4 separate regions of the Homo sapiens genome follow, and all the other regions are linked to region 4. Evidence: fine-mapped expression QTL. A gene starts in region 4. Each other region holds a variant in brackets. All regions are shown on one strand. Distances are from middle to middle. Region 1 overlaps SENP5 (SUMO specific peptidase 5). Region 2 overlaps SENP5 (SUMO specific peptidase 5). Region 3 overlaps SENP5 (SUMO specific peptidase 5). Region 4 holds the start of PIGZ (phosphatidylinositol glycan anchor biosynthesis class Z (Gwada blood group)).

Region 1 (5,180 bases), 38 kb after region 4:
CCAGCCTGGCCAACATGGTGAAATCCTGTCTCTACTAAAAGTACAAAAATCGGTGGGGCGTGGTGGCACACACCTGTAATCCCAGCTACTTGGGAGGCTGAGGCAGGAGAATCGCTTGAACCTGGGAGGTGGAGGTTGCAGTGAGGCAAGATTGCGCCATTGCACTCCAGCCTGAGGGACAGTGAGACTCTGACTCAAAAAAAAAAAAAAACAAAAAACCCAAACTCAACATTTAGTCTAAGCCACACTGGGCAGCACACCTCAAGGTGCCCTATGAAGCATGAGACTGGAAGTGGAAGAGTCACTGGATTTGGGCAGCTCTCTCTCGGCGTTGATTTTCTTACAGGAACAATTCTGTCTCTTCTGCATGCCAGGTTCTGTCACTGAGGAACTGAAACACTTCCTCACTCTGAAGTACAAGACATTTTGAACTGACAGCCCAGTGACTGGCTACTTTGGTATACCACACCCCCACAAAAAAAAAAAAAAAAAAAAAAAAAAAATCAGAGGCAAATTTCTGGCATGTTTTGAAAAATCTCATGTTTGCATAATTATGTTTGAAAAACTCATTATGAGATCTTCCTTACCCTAAACTGTCATTTTTTCCTAACGCTGACAGAACCCCACCTATAGCAGCATAAAGTGCCTCTACTCTCAGTCTTTTTAACGACTTGAAACACAGTAAGAAACACTGACCTGGTTTGACATTAAGGATTTTGGGTCTGGAGGACTCAGGAGAGGAAAGTGCTGGGGCTGCTTCCCAGTGTCACCACTGGTGTTGGGAACCCTGCATGTAAACATGGTCGGACTCAATCCTCAACTGCTGGCAGTCAGCCTTCTCAACCATACCTCAGGGCCAAGTGAAACTAAACATTTTAGCTTTTTCAACACTCCAAACCTACGCGGGCATAAACTCGAGAATCTTCTGCCATTTACTTTGTTTTTCTATTCAGACTTCTGAGTTTCTCATACATACATTGGTTGGTTTTCCTCCCAATTCAGAAAGGGTAACTGGGTAGGTTTCACATGTATCTTTCCAACATGTCACGAAAGGCTGGATTAAAGATGTGAGACGCGTGATATTCATCCTAATGCAGCTAAGTGTATGGACAAGGGCCACTTGGCCTTTCTTCAGAAGATGAGGTTCAACAGAAGGAGAAGAACAGCTGTGCTAGTGTCAGCACTGGCCATGCAGAAGCCAGACGTACCCTGCATGTTACTGAGGTCACTAATGGGACAGGAGAAAGAACCTGACACGGTTGCTGCGCTCCCATGGGACTAAGTTGTCTCTATTACCTTCCCTCTTCTCTCCAGCCACCTGCAAAACATCTCAAGTCAGTCAGCCTTCAGTTTTGAATGTTTACGTTTCAGATACCCTTGAAATAGAAATGCATTTGGTAAACCTTAACTTCTTCCAATTGGGAGGCAACACAGGGAAATGACAACTTAAAAATTACTCTGAGAACAGCTGCATTCTCATTTGTTTGACCACTAGTTTGATGGATGTTAAGATTTTTTTAACAGGTCGAAAACAGAAAAATTCAGGGAATTCAATATCCCAGCAAAAGCCTTTATGAGATGTATGCCACGTATTATAATTCCTAAAACCACGATTGAAATCTGTCATTGTTACTGGCCTCCAAGGTTGCTTTTTCTCACACCTTACTCCTCCCAAAGCAGCCACTGTGCTTACAAGTGTGCCTCCAGAAACAGAAGACACCAGTCAGTTTACGACCACTTCCATCTCACCCTTCAAAAGGAATGGACTGCACTCTCTAAGACTCACTTGGAGAGGGAAGTTGGTGAAAGTTGCCGCTGGTAAAGTAAAACAGGACTGGATTTGTCAAAACCACCCCCAGCTACCCTTAATGCCCCAGGGAACACTTACTATTCTCAGAGTTATGTTGTATCAAAAACATCTTGCATTTTTAGGTTCTGGGAGTAAATTTGAAACCTGTATTCAGTTCACGTCTAACTAAGTTTCAAAAGCTGCACCAAATCTACTAAGCTTTTTTTTTTAATACTCTTCACTGCATGCTCTGTCTATATGCATGCGTTTGAATAATAAATATTAAATATGGGGGACGCACAGAACCATAAAATTAAAAATGAAACCAAACTGAACATTAAACAATAGTACATGGTAGCTGGAGAAATGAATAAGGGCAAAAAATAAATTTGAGGTAACAATAGTGGCCCAACACCACTGATCTGAAATATCTGTAAAAATTCAACTAAGTGTTTGGAGATTCAAGTAACAAACCATCTGCTCCAACTTGGTCAGACTTCCCAGAGTCCCTGCTGAGTTTCAGTCCATGAGCCGGCACTCACATAGCTCCTTGTAAATCCTCTTCCGCACTCGGGGCATGTCTTCTTGTGAAAACTGGAAAGGCTGCTCTAAGGCGAGGCACTTGCAGTACTGCAAAAAAAAAGGTCCCAGAAACACTTCAGTGGCACTTGGAGTTGTGGACCAGCCCATTCTGTTTTACTAAATGCAGACCTAATAGTGTCTAAGGCAGAAGACCCCAACCTTTTTGGCACCAGGGACTGGTTACGTGTAAGGCAATTTTTCCACAGACTTGGGGGAGAGGGGGTTGGTTTCAGGATGAATTATCAGGCATTAGTTAGATTCTCATAAGGGGTGAGCAACCTAGATCCCTCGCATCTGCAGTTCACAACAGGGTTCACACTCCTAAGAGAACCTAATGTGGACAGTATCTGTCCGTGGCCCAGGGGTTTGGGACCCCGATCTAAGGCAGCATTTTCATGTCTGTTTAAACTACTGTAAAAATACACTGTTTTAAGCATTTACCCAAATTATAGGTGACTGACCAAGCTAGTGCATGGCTTGGGATCTCCTCTCCCTCCTGACCCAATACTGTGAAAAGCAGCAACTGATGAAAAGGCCTCAATTCCTCCCAAAGTGCAACCTGCTGGAGTGCAG[C/G]TAGACCCATCATGGCCCTTAATGGGAACTTGAATTTGTTTATAAAACCCCAAACATGCATGAGGTATACAAACGAACCGGTCTTCCAAGATCTTTGCAAATCTCTAAATTCATGCATCATATTCTGTAATTTCCAACATAAATATATGTATAACTGAATTTTTTTCCATAGCCCTTTTCGATCTCTAAGGAGATCTACAGCACAAGATGGCAGTTTCTCAACGTGGACCTTATTTAAAATCTAATCACTGTGTCAAAGACCTGCAGATTGCTTGCCAATGTTTTTTTTTTTTTTTTTTTATGCAAATGCCAATGGTTATGATATGGACAAATTCAAGTCAGTCTCCAATGTGGCTTACTAATAACCTCCAGTGAGACATGGATGACACCCACACTTCACTCTTGATCCCTGGAAGGTGGTTCTTCCTAATGATAACATCTGAACATGCAGAAACTACTGCTCCTCAGCAATAAAGGGGAGGGAAAGTACTCCGTTGCTCGTACCTAGCATCATATACACATACAGGAACTGCCATCTCTCCCCTCTCAACCCAACAGACTCAATTCACACATTGTAAGTTCCGAAAAGCAAGTGTTTCTTTACCTGGAGCACAAAGACTCCACAGTCACTGTCGTTTTTCTGTTGTGGAATACACTGAAGGGAAAAACAAAATAGTCATTAAAACAAGATCCATTACTTCTCTTCAGATAAGAAAAACTCCTTTATGGAAAAATGCGCAAAAGATAGGAAACTTTTCTCTCTCCAGGACAGCTGGTATATCTGATATCTCAAGCATCTAATTTTATGGAGGCACCTGGCCACATAAAAAGAGCTATCAGGTGGCAACCCCAATTTATAGGACAATGTTTTACCTAAATATGAGAAATGGGAAATCAAATGTAAAAACCTGTTTTAAAACATGCATTTGGATACTGAGCTCTGCTATCAATTCATTGACAGTGGAGTCAAAATGGAACTGTGCCTGGGAGAACAAAGGCCCAGCCTCTGGATGCTAGGATGGCGACAACTCCGCTGAGCAGTCTTCACTTCTGATCTCACATCACACGACCCTGTCCTATTCTTTGAAAGAAATCGTGAAGGTAAACAGTATGGTTTTTGTTTTGGGTTTTTCGCGACAGGGTCTCACTCTGTCGCCCAGGCTGGAGTGCAGTGGCACGATCTCAGTCTCCTGAGTTCAAGCAATCCTCCCACCTCAGCATCCCAAGTAGCTGGGACTACGCCTGGCTAATTTTATTATTTGTAGAGATGAGGTCTCACCATGTTGCCCAGGCTGGTCTTGAACTCCTAGACTCACGCAATCCACGCACCTTTGCCTCCCAAAGTGCTGGGATTACAGGTGTGAGCCACTGTGCCCGGCCAACAGTATGTTTTTAAAAGAACTGGTTACTGTATTCTGCTCAAAGCGGTAATACAGAAGATCCTGACTAAATTTAGAATACCCAGATTTTTTAGTTGGGTAAATTCAGGAAATTTACTAGTTCTGGTTTGAACTGGTATACTAGGTTATTCAAAACACAAAACTTAAGCTTAATTTTAAAATTTAGCATTTGGTTCGGTTCAAGGGTGAACTAATAAATCTTGTCTCTTTGGGTTTGGGTTAAAGGTTTGTTTCAAGATCCTGCCTATAACATCCTGTCAATGATCCAGACAGACCTGTGTTCAAGGACCTGACTCTGTATCAATAGTTTTGATGTCCTTTGGGGAAAATCACACCTGGGCTTCAGTTTTCTCATTTACAAAATAAAGACGATGCTTATCCCTAAATGACCTGCCTACCTCACAGGTTATAAGGATCAAATGAGATCCAATACACAAAAACACTGGAAACAACACAGCCCACCATCAATGAAGACACTGGTATTTACGACAGGAATGAGCGGCTGTGCCTGGGCACTCTGCCCCACAGTTTGAATGTCATGGGCCAAGCATGGTGCTGCATCCAGACAGTGGTGGGACTGAAGCGCTTGGGCTACTATCTTCCCCACATGCCTGCCAAGTAGCTCAATGCACTTTCTCCCCCTCAGTGGATCCAAATAGTCATTTCAGCATTTCTCTGGGTCTATATGGGTCATCTGGAAATAAGAGCCATGATGCAAGAGGCAAGTGCCACCCAAAAAAGATTTTTTTTTTCCCCAGAAGAGCAAACACATCATTAGCAACTTCCTCAGGGAGGAAATGACTGAAGTGATTTGCTCCCGGGAAGCACTGGGCAAC
Region 2 (5,164 bases), 83 kb after region 4:
ATTAAAAAAAAAAAAACAGAAACAATCCAGTTGAAAAATAGGCAAAGGGGCAGGGCACGGTGTCTCACGCCTGTAATCCCAGCATTTTGGGAGGCCAAGGTGGGTGGATCACGTGAGGTCAGGAGGTCGAGACCAGCCTGGCCAACATGGTGAAACCCCATCTCTACTAAAAATACAAAAATTAGCCAGGCATGGTGGCGGGTGCCTGTAATCCCAACTACTCGGGGGGTTGAGACAGGAGAATCACTTGAACCCAGGAGGTGGAGGTTGTGGTGAGCCAAGATCTCACCATTGCACTCCAGCCTGGCGACAGAGTAAGACTCCATCTCAAAAAAAAGAAAAATAGGCAAAGGAAAACCATGCACATACAAAAAAGTGGCCAATAAACACAGAAACAGATGTTCAAACTTAAAACTCAAAAATGCAAATTAAAACAAAACTCTGTGATCTGTAAGACTGCCAAAGCTTAACAAATGTAAACTGGTTCAACTTTTTGGAGGGTAACTTAATTATCTTAAAATTTTAAGTGTGAATATTCCTTCACCATCAATTCTAATAATGAGAATTTAGCTTACAGAAACAAATGTATAAATGTAAAGACATAATTTCATCGCACTATTAGCTTATGAAAAAAATGGAATCAATGCAAGTGTCTACAAGGATTAAATGATGGAACATCTACATAATGCAGCAATATAAAAGGCTTCAAGCAGACTAACTGGTTTAAAGAAATATTCATGAGTGGGAGAAAAAAATAGGACTCTTATTAGCAAGGATAATGCACAGCAAATGTGAGCTTGGAGTTTGAGGGAGAATAAAGGAAAAGTGCATACCAGAAAGACAGACTGACAGCTGTTCATCATCCACTGGAGAGGCTTTCTGACTGTTCTTTCCACCTCCTACTTGATTTTCTAGTTTGAGTCCACTGCACACCAAGGGAGCCTCCAGTGGACTTTTACAGTAAGGGTGGTCCAGCAACTCAGAACTAAGAATGCTCTGCTTGAGAGATCCATCCTCCTCCATCTGGTATGAGTTCTCATTTTGAACAGCCTTTTGGGACACAGGCCCATCTACGCTACTCACAGATGTATCTGCTCCAGACACTGACAGTTTTACTCTGTCATCACTGACAGAACTTGTCTGATTTTCCTGACCCAGAGTCATAATTTCTCTTTCAGTTTCTGAAATGAACATGGTATTAGAACGATGTTCTGGTAAGGGGATGTCATGAATCAGCTCTGTACACTCCCACTTAGGAGAAGAACAGGATGACTGGTCCCAGGCGTTTGTGGCACTGCCATTCTGTTGGTCAGGGAATGCTTCGTCTAAACTAAGCTCCTTGCCCAAGAAAGAGCTTCCTTTAGTGTGGCAATCAGGCACATGAGAGTTCGTCCCCTTCACCACAGCACTGCTGTCCATATCTGGAAAGTACGGCTGATGCCGACAAGAAGGGTCTTTAGGTTCTGGGGAAGGAAATGGGCTGCAACTGCCACCCTCACCGTTCTCCCTACGGGTCTCTTGATGGTCCCCAGTGACTTTCTGTACCCAGCTTCGCTGGGCTTTTCTTAGCTTGCAAACCTTGCTTTTGGTTCTGAAGTGCTGGGATCTGAGAATCCTGTACCGAAATCTAATCATGGATAATTTCTCATACATCATAAGAGGAGATAATTTTATCCTTCTATGTTGGTTAAGTTGGAACTTTTTTGGAATCAAGGGTCCCCCATTCCTGTGGTGCTCCGGCCCTTGGCAGCAGCCGTAACAAAAGCCCTTTCTCTTATGGTTGTTCAAGGTGACCACAATCGTGCCACTCTCACCTGGACTTTGGCTCTCCCCATTGAACTTCATGGGAAAGTCAGAAGGTTGTGGGTCTGTCCTAGGTCTGTGACCATTGGCCTGACCTAAAGCACTATTTGATGGAAAGTCAGTAACTGCCTTCAAGAGATTTTTCTCTCTGCAGTATTCATGGTCAGAATTCTTTGCTGATGACAACAGCTTCTCTGCTTGGAGTCTCAGGAGAGTCTTTGAGGAGGAAATGAAGTGTTTAGCGTCCTTTCTTTTCACTTTAGAGGACAAAGTACTAACATTTTGAGTAGCCACATTGAACTTGGTCTTAGCACAAAGGGGTTCATCCTTGATCCACGTTTTCTGGATTTGAAGAGCTTTCTTTCTACCCTGGAAATGTCTCAACTGTCTATTCCAAGTAACTGGCCTTCCCAGCTTAGCTTTCAGAATGCACAAGTGTTGGTGAAAATAAAACTTCTTAAAGCCTCCAAACCCAGTATTCCATTTCTCAGAAAAGGCTAAGTGGATTCCTTTCCTCCATAGAATTTTCCTCTGTTTTTTCATTTTTCTGATGCATAATGAGATCTGGATGCAGCTGTAAAGAAGAGAAGTAAGTTATATTTCTATCTAAAAATAAGGTCATGAAGACATATTCACAGTAACTAAGGCAGAAAATTGAGAAAAAAAAAGAGTACATATACTTCAATTTAGACTATTGGACACAATGAAATCTTATCTGACCAAGGTTTTCATCACAATGAAAACTGGAGAGGAGGGAGGACATGAGTAGTCTAACAAAAAGCCATTTGCTGTACACCTGCCTCTGAGAAAAATAAACTTAA[G/A]AATCATTTTCGACCAGGCGCAGTGGCTCACACCTGCAATCCCAGCACTCTGGGAAGCCAAGGTGCAAGGATTGCTTGTAATCCTCACACCTGACACCAGCTCCTGGTGAGGCTGAGGCAGGAGAATTGCTTGAACCTGGGAGGTGGAGGTTGCACTGAGCCAAAAATCGCGCCACTGCACTCCAGCCTGGGTGACAAGAGCGAAACTCCATCTCAAAAAAAAAAAAAACAAAAAAAAACTGATTTCTGTAACCTCAGTGTGATTTGGAGAGGGAACTGAGGTAAACATGTGTTCAGTCCTCCATTTTTTTCCCCAGAGAAAACTTATACACAGAAAGGTAATACAGCACTTCTGAGTAAACTGTTGTCAAGCTGAAATTAGAATATTGGCTTCTGTTTCATAGTCTTTCTTCCACTCTACCTGCAGTGACTGGTGCCTTTCTTTCTAGACTAAAGAGCCTTCGCTAATATTAGATTTTATTAAATCCTGAGGGGAAGTTATTGTTTGGATTTGACTGTCATTCATTTCCATCTACTTCTAGAGTGTGTTCCTGCAGTATATGTGTGTATGCTTGTGTTGGTTCTTTTTTCTTATATTCACTTGAGATCCAGAACCATCACTGGGTGAGAGCATTTGATAAAGTCCTGTCCTTGCATGGCTACCCAGAGTCTTTGACTGGTAACAGAGGAGCGTGGCTTCCCTCTTGAGATGCTGACCTCACATGTATTTACTAAATATCTACTGGTGCATGACTATACAGAACAAAAGTACCTGCTCTTTTAAAAATCTGCTGTATGAAACTAATTATTTTGCTATGAGCAAATTATAATTAAGTCAATATGGAATCAGTCTTAAGTGGTATTTGGTCTCCTCTCCCTTCCCCGTCCTTCATTTTACACATGAGAACACAGGGCCAGGTGTGGTGGCCCATGCCTGTAATCCCAGCACTTTGGGAAGCCGAAGCAGATGGATTACCTGAGGTCAGGAGTTCGAGACCAGACTGGCCAACATGGTGAAACCCCGTCTCTACTAAAAATACAAAAATAATTAGCCAGGCATGATGATGAGTGCCTGTAATCTCAGCTACTTGGGAGGCTGAGGCAGAAGAATTGCTTGAACCTGGGAGGTGGAGGTTGCAGTGAGCCAAGATTGCGCCACTGCACTCCAGCCTGGGAGACAAGAGTGAAGCTCTGTCTCCAAAAAAAAAAGCAGCAGCTATAGGACCTCAGAAAGCAGAAAGGCTCAGAAGCAGAGGCAACATATACCTATGAAAGTCAGGAGTATGGGTGGTGTTGAAAAGGAAACGCTGGCTCAAAGTCTGAATAAGAAGCAGTGAAACTCCTAGATACCATCTCCTACCGTGGCAGATGATGAAAGTTTCACTTTCTGAGGAGGATGACCCAGGATAGTCCAGTATATCATGTACAGCTGAGCACAGGGGTATACCAGGAGGATAAATGAGTTTACACCGTGAATTCCCCTCCAGGCCCTTCCCCACTCAGCTTCCATAAGACTGGCAAGAAGCTCTATACCCACAAGAAGGCGACTAGTCCCTGGGGGAAAACAGATCATTCACGGAGAAAAAACCAACAGATAGTGATATTTGGGGATGTCACAACAAAATAAGTCTGAACAATGACTCAATAGGGTGGCCTAAAGTTTAAGAAGCAGTTAGACTCCAGATCCCTACTTAACTCCACATGGCAGGTAAGTGACCCTCCCCCACCCAAGATTGGAAGTTTATCCTTTAGATAAAATAGTGAAATGTAAAATGCAAAAAAGAGTAAAATGGAAAGTCTGCAGACACAGGGACTCCAGGCATAATTTGAAGATGGAATTATATACTGCATATGAGACTCCGAACACACTTTGCCACTCATCTCCCAGAATGCTAGCAGTCTGTCTCACCCATACAAGCAGACTGAAGATTCTTTTCTGGAGACTATAACTAGTCCACCAAAAAAAAAAAAAAAATCCATAAAGATACAGATATTACCCCACAAAATGGCCCACAGTGTACCCCAAAGTTGACACATTCCACCATGTGTTAAGAGTTCCCAAGCAGTTTCTTAGTGGTCATTATTAAAAACAACTAGACGGGCTGGGCATGGTGGCTCACGCCTGTAATCCCAATACTTCGGGAGGCCAAGGTGGGCAGAGCACTTGAGGTCAGGAGTTCGAGACCAGCCTGGCCAACATGGCAAAACCCCATCTCTATTAAAAATACAAAAATTAGCTGGGCATGGTGGTGCATGCCTGTAATCCCAGCTACTTGGGAGGCTGAGGCACAGGAATTGCCTGAACCTGGGAGGCAGAGGTTGTGGTGAACTGAGATCGCACCACTGCAGTCTAGCCTGGGCGACAGAGCAAGACTCTGTCTCAAAAAAATAAAATAAAAAATAAAGGATGACCAAGAATCACCAGATGTCTAGGGATAAAAACAGACCAAAACAAACAGATAAAAGCAAAAACTATATAAAGTCAACTTTTATAAACCAACAGGGAGGGGGAGAAAAGGGAGTTATTGCTTAATGGGTAC
Region 3 (5,000 bases), 59 kb after region 4:
ATGTCTCCACAGCCTTGCCAGCTTCTATTGTTTCTTGACTTTTTAATAATTGTCATTTCTGACTCGCATGAGATGGTATCTCATTGTGGTTTTGATTTGCATTTCTCTAATGATCAGTGATTAGCTGTTTTTGTTTTGTTTTTTTTTGAGACGGAGTCTTGCTCTTGTTGCTAAGGCTGGAGTGCAATGGCACAATCTCAGCTCACGCAACCTCTGCCTCTCAGGTTCAAGCGATTCTCCTGCCTCAGCCTCCCGAGTAGCTGGGATTACAGGCCCCCACCACCACAACTGCCTCAGCTTCCCAAAGTGCTGGGATTACAGGCGTGAGCCACCGCGCCCAACTGATGAGGTTTTTTCATATGTTTTTTGGCTACATAAATGTCCTTTTTTTTTTTTTTTTGAGACAAAGTCTCACTCTGTCGCCCAGGCTGGAGTGCAGTGGCGCAATCTTGGCTCACTGCAACTTCCACTTCCCAGGTCAAGCAATTCTCCTGTCTCAGCCTCTCGAGTAGCTGAGACTACAGACATAAATGTCTTCTTTTGCGAAGTGTCTGTTCATATCCTTTGCCCACTTTCTGATGGTTTATTTTTCTTGTAAATCTGCTTAAGTTCCTTGTAGATTCTGGATATTAGATCTTTGTCAGGTGGGTAGACTGCAAAAATTTTATCCAATTCTATAGGTTGCCTGTTCACTCTGATGATAGTTTCTTTTGCTGAGCAGAAACTCTTTAGTTTAATTAGAATCCATGTTGGCTTTTGCTGCAATTGCTTTTGGTGTTTTTGTCATGAAGTCTTTGCCCACGCCTATGTCCTGAATGGTACTGCCTAGGTTTTCTTCTAGGGTTTTTACGATTTTGTGTTTTACAATTAAGTCTTTAATTCATCTTGAGTTAATTTTTGTATAAGGTGTAAGGAAGGGGTCCAGTTTCAGTTTTCTGCATATGGCTAGCCAGTTTTCCCAGCATCATTTATTAAATAGGGAATCCTTTCCCCATTGCTTTTGTCGGGTTTGTCAATGATGAGATGGTTGTGTATGTGTGGTGTTATTTCTGAGGTCTCTGTTCTGTTCCATTGGTCTATATGCCTGTTTTGGTACCAATACCACGTTGTTTTGGCTACTGTAGCCTTGTAGTATAGTTTGAAGTTAGGTATGTGATGCCTACAGCTTTGTTCTTTTTGCTTAGGATTGTCTTGGCTATACAGGCTCTTTTTTGTTTCCATATGAATTTTAAAGTAGTTTTTTCTAATTCTGTGAAGAATGCCAATGGTAGTTTGATGGGAATAGCATTAAATCTATTAATTACTTTGGGCAGCCAGGAGTGGTGGCTCACATCTATAATCCCAGCACTCTGGAAGGCCGAGGCAGGCGGATCACGAGGTCAGGACATCGAGACCATCCTGGCTAACACGGCGAAACCCTGTGTCTACTAAAAATACAAAAAATTAGCTGGGCATGGTGGTGCATGCCTGTAGTCCCACCTACTCGGGAGGCTGAGGCAGGAGAATTGCTTGAACCCGGGAAGTGGAGGTTGCAGTGAGCCACGATCATGCCACTGCATTCCAGCCTGGGCAATGGAGCGAGACTCCATCTCAAAAAAAAAAAAAAAAAAAAAAAAAAAAAGATTACTTTGGGCAGTATGGCCATTTTCAAGATACTGGTTCTTCCTATCCACGAGGATGGAATATTTTTCCATTTGTTTGTGTCCTCTCTTACTTCCTTGAGCAGTGGTTTGTAGTTCTCCTTGAAGAGGTCCTTCACATCCCTTATAAACTGTATTCCTAGGTATTTTATTCTCTTTGTAGCAATTGTGAATGGGGGTTCATTCATGATTTGGCTCTCTGCTTGTCCATTGCTGGCGTATAGGAATGCTTGTGATTTCTGCACATTGATTTTGTATCCTGAGACTTTGCTAAAGTTTCTTATCAACGTAAGGGGTTTTGGGGCTGAGACGATGGCATTTTCTAAATATAGAATCATGCCATCTGCAAGAGACAATTTGACTTCCTCTCTTTCTATCTGAATACCCTGTATTTCTTTCTCTTGCCTGATTGCCCTGGCCAGAACTTCCAATATTATGTTGAATAGAAGTGATGGGAGAGGGCATCCTTGTCTTGTGCCAGTTTTCAAAGGGAATGTTTCCAGCTTTTGCCCACTGATATTGGCTATGGGTTTGTCATAAATAGCTCTTATTATTGAGATATGTTTGATGAATACCTAGTTTATTGAGAGTTTTTAAATGAAGGGATGCTGAATTTTATCGAAGGTCTTTTCTGCATCTACTGAAATAATCATGTGGTTTTCGTCACTGGTTCTGTTTATATGACGGATTATGTTTACTGATTTGCATATGTTGAATCAGCCTTGCATCCCAGGGATGAAGCCAACTTGATCATGGTGGATAAGCTTTTTGATGTGCTGCTGGATTTGGTTTGCCAGCATTTTATTGAGAATTTTTCGCACCGATGTTCATCAGGGATATTGGCCTGAAATTTTCTTTTTTTGTGTCTCTGCCAGGTTTTGGTATCAGGATGATGCCGGCCTCATAAAATGAGCTAGGGAGGAGTTCCTCCTTTTCAATTGTTATGAAATAGTTTCAGAAGGAATGGTATCAGCTCCTCTTTGTACCTCTGGTAGAATTTGGCTGTGAATCCATCTGGTCCTGGGCTTTTTGTGGTTGGTAGGCTATTAATTACTGCCTCAATTTCAGAATTTGTTATTGGTCTATTCAGACATTCCACTTCTTCCTGATTTAGTCTTGGGAAGGTGTATGTGTCCAGGAATTTATCCGTTTCTTCTAGATTTTCTAGTTTATTTGTGTAGAGGTCTTTATAGTATTCTCTGATAGTAATTTGTATATTTCTGTGGGGTCAATGGTGATATCCCCTTTATCATTTTTTATTGTGTCTATTTGATTCTTCTCTCTTTTCTTCTTTAGTTTAGCTAGAGGTATTTTTTGTTAATTTTTTCAAAAAATCCAGCTCCTGGATTCACTGATTTTTTGAAGGGTTTTTTTGTGTTTCTATCTCCTTCAGTTCTGCTCTGAT[C/G]TTAGTTATTTCTTGTTTTCTGCTAGCTTTTGGATTTGTTTGCTCTTGCTTCTCTATTTCCTTGTTGTTGTTTTTGTTTGTTTGTTTTGAGACAGAGTTTCACTCTTCTTGCCCAGGCTGGAGTGCAATGGCGCAATCTCAGCTCACCACAACCTCCACCTCCCGGGTTCAAGTGATTCTCCTACCTCGGCCTCCCAAGTAGCTGGGATTACAGGCATGTGCCACCACACCCAGCCAATTTTGTATTTTTAGTAGAGATGGGGTTTCTCCATGTTGGTCAGGCTCATCTCAAACTCCTGACCTCAGGTGATCTACCCGCCTCAGCCTCCCAAAGTGCTGGGATTACAGGCATGAGTCACCACGCCCAGCCGCTTCTCTAGTTCTTTTAATTGTGATGTCAGGATGTTGATCTGAGATCTTTCCAGCTTTTCGATGTGGGCATTTAGTGCTATAAACTTCCCTCTTAACACTGCTTTAGCTGTGTCCCAGAGATTCTGGTACATTGTCTCTCTGTTCTCATTGGTTTCAAAGAACTTCTTGATTTCTGCCTTAATTTCTTTATTTACCCAGGAGTTATTCAGGAACAGGTTGTTTAACTTTCCTGTAGTTGCCTTTTTTATTTGTTTTAAATTGAGACAAGGTCTCAGTCTGTCACCCAGGCAGGAGTGCAGTGGCGTGATCAGGGTTCACTGCAGCCTCGACCTCCCAGGCTCAAGTGATCCTCCCACCGCAGCCTTCTGGATAACTGGGACCACAGGCTGCCACCATGGCCAGCTAAGTTTTTTAAATTTTTTATAGAAACGGGGTCTCGCTTGGTTGCCTAGGCTGATTTGAAACTCTTGGGCTCAAGCAATCCTCCCATCTACAGTAATTTTAGGCCTCCCAAAGTGTTCAGACTGCAGATGTGAGACACAGCGCCCAGCCTCTTTAAATGTCACTTCATTTTCAACCTTTCTTTTTCATATTATTTTATGTATACTTCTTATATTCAGCATAAACCTGGGTTTTTTTTTTTTTTACTTAACCCAATCTCAGAGGATCTACAGCAAGCTTGTCCAGTCCACAGCCCACGGGCAGCATGCAGCCCAGGACGGCTCTGAATGCAGCCGAACACAAATTTGTAGACTTTCTTTTATGAGATCTTTTTTGCAATTTTTTTTGTTTTAGCTCATCAGCTATTGTTAGTGTTGGTGTATTTTATGTGTGGCCCAAGACAACTCTTCTTCTTCCAGTGAGGCTCAGGGAAGCCAAAAGATTGGACACCCCTGATCTAGAGGAAGGAATAATTTAGTTTATTATTTAATGAAACAACTCACATATTTGACTTTATTCTTTCACTCTCATGTTTATCATTCAGATACTTTTCCATGAATGTATATTTTTTGCCCACACTGCTTGTAATTTTTCCCACCCCAAATGGAATATAAGCATCTTCCATTATCTTTTTTTTTTTTTTTTGAGACGGAGTCTCTCTGTCGCCCAGGCTGGAGTGCAGTGGTGCGATCTTGGCTCACTGCAAGCTCCGCCTCCTGGGTTCAGTCTCCTGAGTAAGTGGGACTACAGGCATCCGTCACCACGCCCGGCTAATTTTTTTGTATTTTTAATAGAGATGGGGTTTCACCGTGTTAGCCAGGATGGTCTCTATCTCCTGACCTCGTGATCCGCCTGCCTCGGCCCCTCAAAGTGCTGGGATTACTGATGTGAGCCACTGTGCCCGGCCCATCGTTCATTATCTACACAGCTTTTCCTGCTTAAGTAGCATCCAATTATATGACTGTACATTTTAAATTTGAACAATCCTCTACTAGTTGTCCTACATTTTTCTAATGTAAATACAACCATAGGCCGTCCAGTCATACAAGTCACATACTTGGAAGTCATCTTTCACACTTCCTTGTCCTTCATCTCCATAACCAACTTATCACCAAATCCTGTTAATTTTACTTCCTACATCA
Region 4 (5,197 bases):
GTCAGCCAGGATACAGAGGTGCCCCATGAAAGGCCCACGGCAAACACCCACGCCCAAATCCCAGGAGCCCTGTCAGGGCAGAGTTGGCCTTTACAGTGGCTCTCCAGGGAGGTCTCAAGACCAAGGTAGAGGAAAATACAACACACACACGCCACACGGGCGACGCTCAGCTGCATGGTGCCAAGCGAAGAAAGCCAGGCACAAAAGACCACACGGTGAATGGTTCTCCTTGCATGCAATTGCGAGAGAGGCAAAGGGCAGTGACAGAAATCAGAGGAGCAGTTGTCTGGAACCAGGGCGGAGGGGAGGTGAGGGGTTAGCTGCAGAGGGGCAGGAGGGTACTTTTGGGAGGAGAGGACTTCTTGAACTCGGGGGGAGACTAGCCTGGTGGTTTCGCGTGTCAGAAGTCATGGAACTGAGCCGGGCATGGTGGCGGGGCCTGTGGTCCCAGCTGCTCGGGAGGCTGAGGCAGGAGGATCGCTGGAGCCTAGAAGTTCAAGGCTGCGGTGAGCCGAGATCGTGCCACCGCACTCCAGCCTGGGCGACAGAGACCCTGTATCTAAAAAATAAAGGAAAAAATTCATGGAACTGTATACTTCCATGTACTGTACTTAAATTTCCTGGTATTTATCGTATGTATAGAATACCTCACATCTTAATAAAGTCGTCGTTTTTAGTGTGAGGGGTGCTATGGGGCACGGAGGGCGATCCGGCTGCCGACCCTCGGCGGCGGCGCGGGAGTGCGAGGCCGGCGGGGAGGTCGGGTCCTGCGGCCTCGCCGGGGCCCCTGCAGCGCTCTCCCGCCAGGGGGCAGCGTCGGGCCGGCGGCGCGGGCGGGAAGCTCCAGCGGCCGGGACGCGGTGGTGCCGTCTTCCCCCTGCGGTGAGGGACCGCGTCGCGCCACCCCGCTCTCAGCGCAGCCCGCAGCGGCGAGGCCACCGGGTGGGACACGGGTGCCCGCGCGTCGCGCCGCAGCTCGCGGGGACCTGGCGCCCCGTCCCGGGAGGGGATCTGGCCCCCGGGCGCCGGCTCTCCGTCCACGCGGCGTCCTCCCTGCAGCCCGCTAGGGCCGCTCGCCCGTCGCCGCCTGCGGAACGCGGAGGGGCAGCACGGCCACGCCCGGCCACTCGAACCTGCTCCCCGGCGCCGCGTGACCGTGTCAGGTCCCCGTCGGCCTCGCCGTGCCGACCCCGGGCGCCTCCACAGTGGCTCGGAGGCCGCTGCTGCCCGGATGCCCGGGTTCCACGAGGCTCTCCCAGCCCGACAAGCCCGCCGATCCCACGGGCACGGGCGGAGGAGAGGGAACCGCCGCGCCCGCCCCGCGCGCCGTCGCCGACCCCGGTGGGTCGCGCTTCCCCGCGCACGCCGCGCTCTGGCGCGGGGAGAGGCCCCTCGGGGTCCGCCCGGGTCAGCGTCCCGCGGGGGTGGCGGCCGTTCGCTCAGCCTCCTCTCGACTTCCCTTTCCTGTCAGGGCTGCTGGGGCTGACAGGCTCCCGGGCAACCACGCCGGGGAACCCCTCACGCCCGCCGATCGCTGCGGGGCTCAGCAGCCGCCCCGTGCGCTGAGTCCCCTGTCATGAGTGACTCCATTGCGAGGCGTTTCGGGCCACGAAGCAGGACCGGGGGCCGCACTCCGGGTCCCCGCCCTGCCCTCGCCGACCTCCCGCGCGTGGAAGGGGGACGGCGGCGGCGGAGCTCCCCGCCACGGAGAACCCCGAAATGGTCATTTCGAACGAGAGGAGTGTGGCCTGGGGTGTCTGGTTTAACAGCCCCCCGCGCCGAAAGGCTGTTCGCCGAGGAGGGGCCGCCGGGGAGGGAGCCCGAGCGCGGCGGGGCGAGACCGGTCCCCGCCCGGCGTTGCCCGGCCCGAGGGACGGCGGCGCCCCCAGGACCCTCCCCAGCGCGGCCCCAGCTCGCTCCGGGACCGCGGGGCCAGGCCGGGCGGGAGCGCGGGGACGTACACGGCGGCCCCGCCCGCGCGCTCCTCCTCCCTCCCGGCCCGCCCTGCGCCGGCGGCGGCGGCCCCAGTCTCCGCGCTGCTGAGGCGCGCCCGGCCGCTCCCACGGCCTCCCCTCCGCCCTGCGGTCCCGCCGCCTCCGGGGCCTCCTGGGACCCTGGCCCTCGCCGGGCAGGACGCCGCCAGCGCTGAAGGCGCAGCCCGGAGGCCGCGCGGGTGAGTCGGTGCGCAGCCCCAGCGGCTCCAGAGGAGCGGGTGCGGGGAGGGCGAGCGGACCAAGTCGGCCGCGTTCCCACCTTGCGCGCAGCCGGGAGACCAGCAGGCCCAGCCTCTAGGGAGGAGGGCAGGGGAGCTGGGGGCCGCCCCCCGCATTCTCGCAGGCACCTGTCCCTAGGCCGGGGTCCGCTGGCTCGAAGCACTGACCCGCCCCGGACCTAGGGGGACGGAGGCAGCGGTGACATTTGCCCAGGAAGGGCGGCAGTGGGTAAACTCCACTCCAGGGCACGGGTCTGGGCGCAGGTTGAGGCCTGGGGTTGAATCTGCTTCTGCTAGAGGCCAGTGTTCTCAGGGAGGCCCATAACCCGACTGGGTCTCAGTTCCCCCTGGTATGAAACAGCAACAGGGCAAGAGGAGGAAACCATGCCACGCTGCAAAGCTCTGAGCACGAAGCCGAGAAGAATCTCGGCTCCCGGCCTCGGGGGCTGCACTTCGGGCCAGGCCTGCACTCCCAGGATAAGAGGATGGCCTCCTGCCCCAGGGGTGGCATGGGGGCGCGCAAAAAGCAAAGGTGACCCTGCCAGGGAGCACCCAGCGCTCCGGTTGGTGGTCATGGGGTCTTTGCGTGGGACTCACAGTGTGGCCGGGAAAGTTCTGTAATGAGGACATTTCTCATCATTCCTTCTTCTCAAAAGTCATTCGTCAGCCCCAGACACCTTTGCCTCGGAAAACTGAGAACTACTTTCAAAATCGTCAACACCCCCATCTCCTGCTACAGAGCGGAGTCCCCACTTTGCAGAGGCGCACTGCAAGGTCGCGGGTGGTTAAATGGTGCGCCCTCCTTGATGAAGATGCCTTGTTCTCTTTCACTCTCTATGTGTGTTTAATGTTGTGTGTTGCGTTCTCTGTGAAGCGAAGGATAAACACGGGCCCTTTCAGGCAACCGAAGGAAGAAGGCGGCCAGCATCAGATCTTCCCGTGCTTCAAGGTGGAGCACCCTGCAGGGCTTACTGCAGCGCTCAGGGTCAAAGTGAGGATGCAGTGCGGCACCAAAAGGCAAATGGACTCTGGAGAGCCACTCTCACCTTGTACCCCTGGAGTAGACCCCGAGGACTGGAGGACTGGAACAAGATCTTAGTCCTGAGGGCGGGAGAAGCAGCCTTTGGTGGTTGCACAGGGGCCCGGCTTTTCCCGAAGTCTTAAAGCCTGCTCCAAATGCCAGATTCAGACAAAGGGGCCGAACCTTGGGCCCGCCGCCTTCTCCCATAAGCGGCAACCCAGCAGCTTTGCCAGGAAGTTTACATGTGAAGGTACGGACCTTTCTTGGAATGAGCCACACCTGATGGCCCTGCCACTCCGGACGGCGCTCGTTCACGGCTGTCCCTGGAGCAGACACGGTTCTGCGCACACACCTGGGCGCCGGAGAAACAGGGCACCCAAAGCGGGCCCAGGCCCTCGGACTCAGCGAGCTGGACACGTGTCCCCATCACCCGCGGCTGGCGGGAGCAGTGTTTCTACTCCCTTCCCTCCCCTCCTCCCGCCCCGCAGATGTGCTGTCTTTCCCGGCCTCCCCCCGCGCCCAGCACAGTGGTTTCTGCTTGGCTGTTCCCCTGTCTCTGAGATGGTCTCTCCCTGCTGCTTGCCCTACACATTCTCCCACACAGGCGCGCGGGATGCCCCTGTCGGCGTGGTTGTCAATGCCTGCTCCCCTGCCCCCCAGTCCAATCTCCACGACTCTGGGCCCTGTCGCTTCATCCTAAAGCCTTCCGCTCACGAGCCCTCCCGACGACCGACCCCCAGGAGGCTACTGGAGATGCAGGATTTGGACCCGTGCTGGACCCGCACCCGGACAGATCCCTCTGAATGAATGAATGAATTAATGAGCAGGCTGCATCCTGATTAGGTTAAGGTGGGTGGTTGCCATGCTTGGCGTTGGCTCTGTCCCCTGGGATAAAAGGCGAGAGGCAGCCACATGGACAGCTCCTCCAGTGGGGTCTCAGACTGGAGAGACGCCAGCGGGCGGGGGTCGTTCCCTGGAGCTCCCGCATTTGTTATGGTCGATGCCCCACTACGTTGTCACCTTCTCCGGAGGACCTCCTGCTCTGTCCTTGACAGATGGGCCCCAGTGGGCCCACCCAGGCTGGAGATGAATCTCAAAGGGACTCCATGCCTGGGAGACCTCAGCCAAGCAGGGCAGAGAAATAATCAGACAACAGTCAGCGCATGGCGCCTGCAGAGTTTTGCACAGGGTCCTTCAGAAGGAGGGTTAGGGAAGACTTCTTGGGGGTTAGGGCAGTTAAGCAAGATGGATAAAGAAAGCAACCACTTATGTCTGCATATTTTCTTCATTTCATCTTCACAACAGCCCTGAGATAGGTACTTGTTTTAAAGCTGAGGTATAAATTGGGGTTCAGAGAGATTGAGTGCTTTCACCATGAACAAGTGACAGAGAGCAACGACTTGAACCGGGTTACCTGATGCCACCGCTGGTCTTAACCTCCATGTTATTAGCGTATTGGGTAAGTGAAACCGTGTGAGCCAAGAAGCTGGGGTGAGAAACAGCACGGAATAGAGGAGAGGGCTGCAGAAAGGCGTGATGTTTCTGGAGCACCGAATTCTACTCACGAACACAGGAGTGGAGGCGGGAAGGGGACACTGGAAGCTATGGAGGGCCTTGTCAGCCACAGTAAGGAATGTGGACCTGGTCCTCAGGGTGGTGAGGGGATGGCCCCCCATCCAGAGGTTTCTCACAGGGGAGTGATTCGGCCTGTCTCTGCCGCAGTCAGAAGGAAGGATGCAGTGAGAGAGGGAAAGTGGAGAGGCGGATGGCGGTGCAGTCTACTCCAGGTCATGCTTCTTACCATCTCCCTCATTATTCATCCACAGAAAATGATTGCTGTTATATGACACACTGGTTAACAAAGGAGGGGGCTGTTTGCAAACAGAAACAACCAACCCAGGGCCTCCAGCCATCCAAAGATTCTGCACAGCCAGCCACCCCTAAGGCTAAGAAATCCCAGGTAC

What was found. PIP is the estimated chance that this variant, and not a neighbour inherited with it, causes the effect.
Region 1: its variant is the best candidate, but not a certain one, in a credible set for the expression of PIGZ in prefrontal cortex (BrainSeq, PIP 0.89).
Region 2: its variant is the best candidate, but not a certain one, in a credible set for the expression of PIGZ in esophagus mucosa (GTEx, PIP 0.53).
Region 3: its variant is the best candidate, but not a certain one, in a credible set for the expression of PIGZ in tibial artery (GTEx, PIP 0.56).

What each region holds. Positions count from the first base shown.
Region 1 is chr3:196,928,052-196,933,231 of GRCh38, reverse strand. It overlaps SENP5 (SUMO specific peptidase 5), which reads right to left. Exons shown (of 10, transcript NM_152699.5): 9 at 3,549-3,599; 10 at 1-2,419. The coding sequence ends at 2,309. Among named protein-coding and RNA genes, the nearest start is that of NCBP2-AS1, 9.2 kb to the left of the region's middle. The variant C/G (reference allele first, on the strand shown) is at 2,945.
Region 2 is chr3:196,882,364-196,887,527 of GRCh38, reverse strand. SENP5 (SUMO specific peptidase 5) reads right to left here. Exons shown (of 10, transcript NM_152699.5): 2 at 834-2,377. The coding sequence starts at 2,346. Among named protein-coding and RNA genes, the nearest start is that of SENP5, 17 kb to the right of the region's middle. The variant G/A (reference allele first, on the strand shown) is at 2,625.
Region 3 is chr3:196,906,957-196,911,956 of GRCh38, reverse strand. All of the region lies in intron 6 of SENP5 (SUMO specific peptidase 5), which reads right to left. Among named protein-coding and RNA genes, the nearest start is that of NCBP2-AS1, 30 kb to the left of the region's middle. The variant C/G (reference allele first, on the strand shown) is at 3,046.
Region 4 is chr3:196,965,663-196,970,859 of GRCh38, reverse strand. PIGZ (phosphatidylinositol glycan anchor biosynthesis class Z (Gwada blood group)) reads left to right here and starts at 2,027. Exons shown (of 3, transcript NM_025163.4): 1 at 2,027-2,173. LOC124906255 (collagen alpha-1(I) chain-like) reads right to left here and starts at 1,727. Exons shown (of 3, transcript XM_047449439.1): 1 at 1,611-1,727; 2 at 648-1,464; 3 at 1-559. The coding sequence starts at 1,727. The coding sequence ends at 649. RefSeq lists silencers at 688-907, 918-1,237, 1,348-1,407, 1,518-1,577, 1,588-1,797 and 1 more and enhancers at 843-1,378, 1,379-1,914, 1,915-2,450.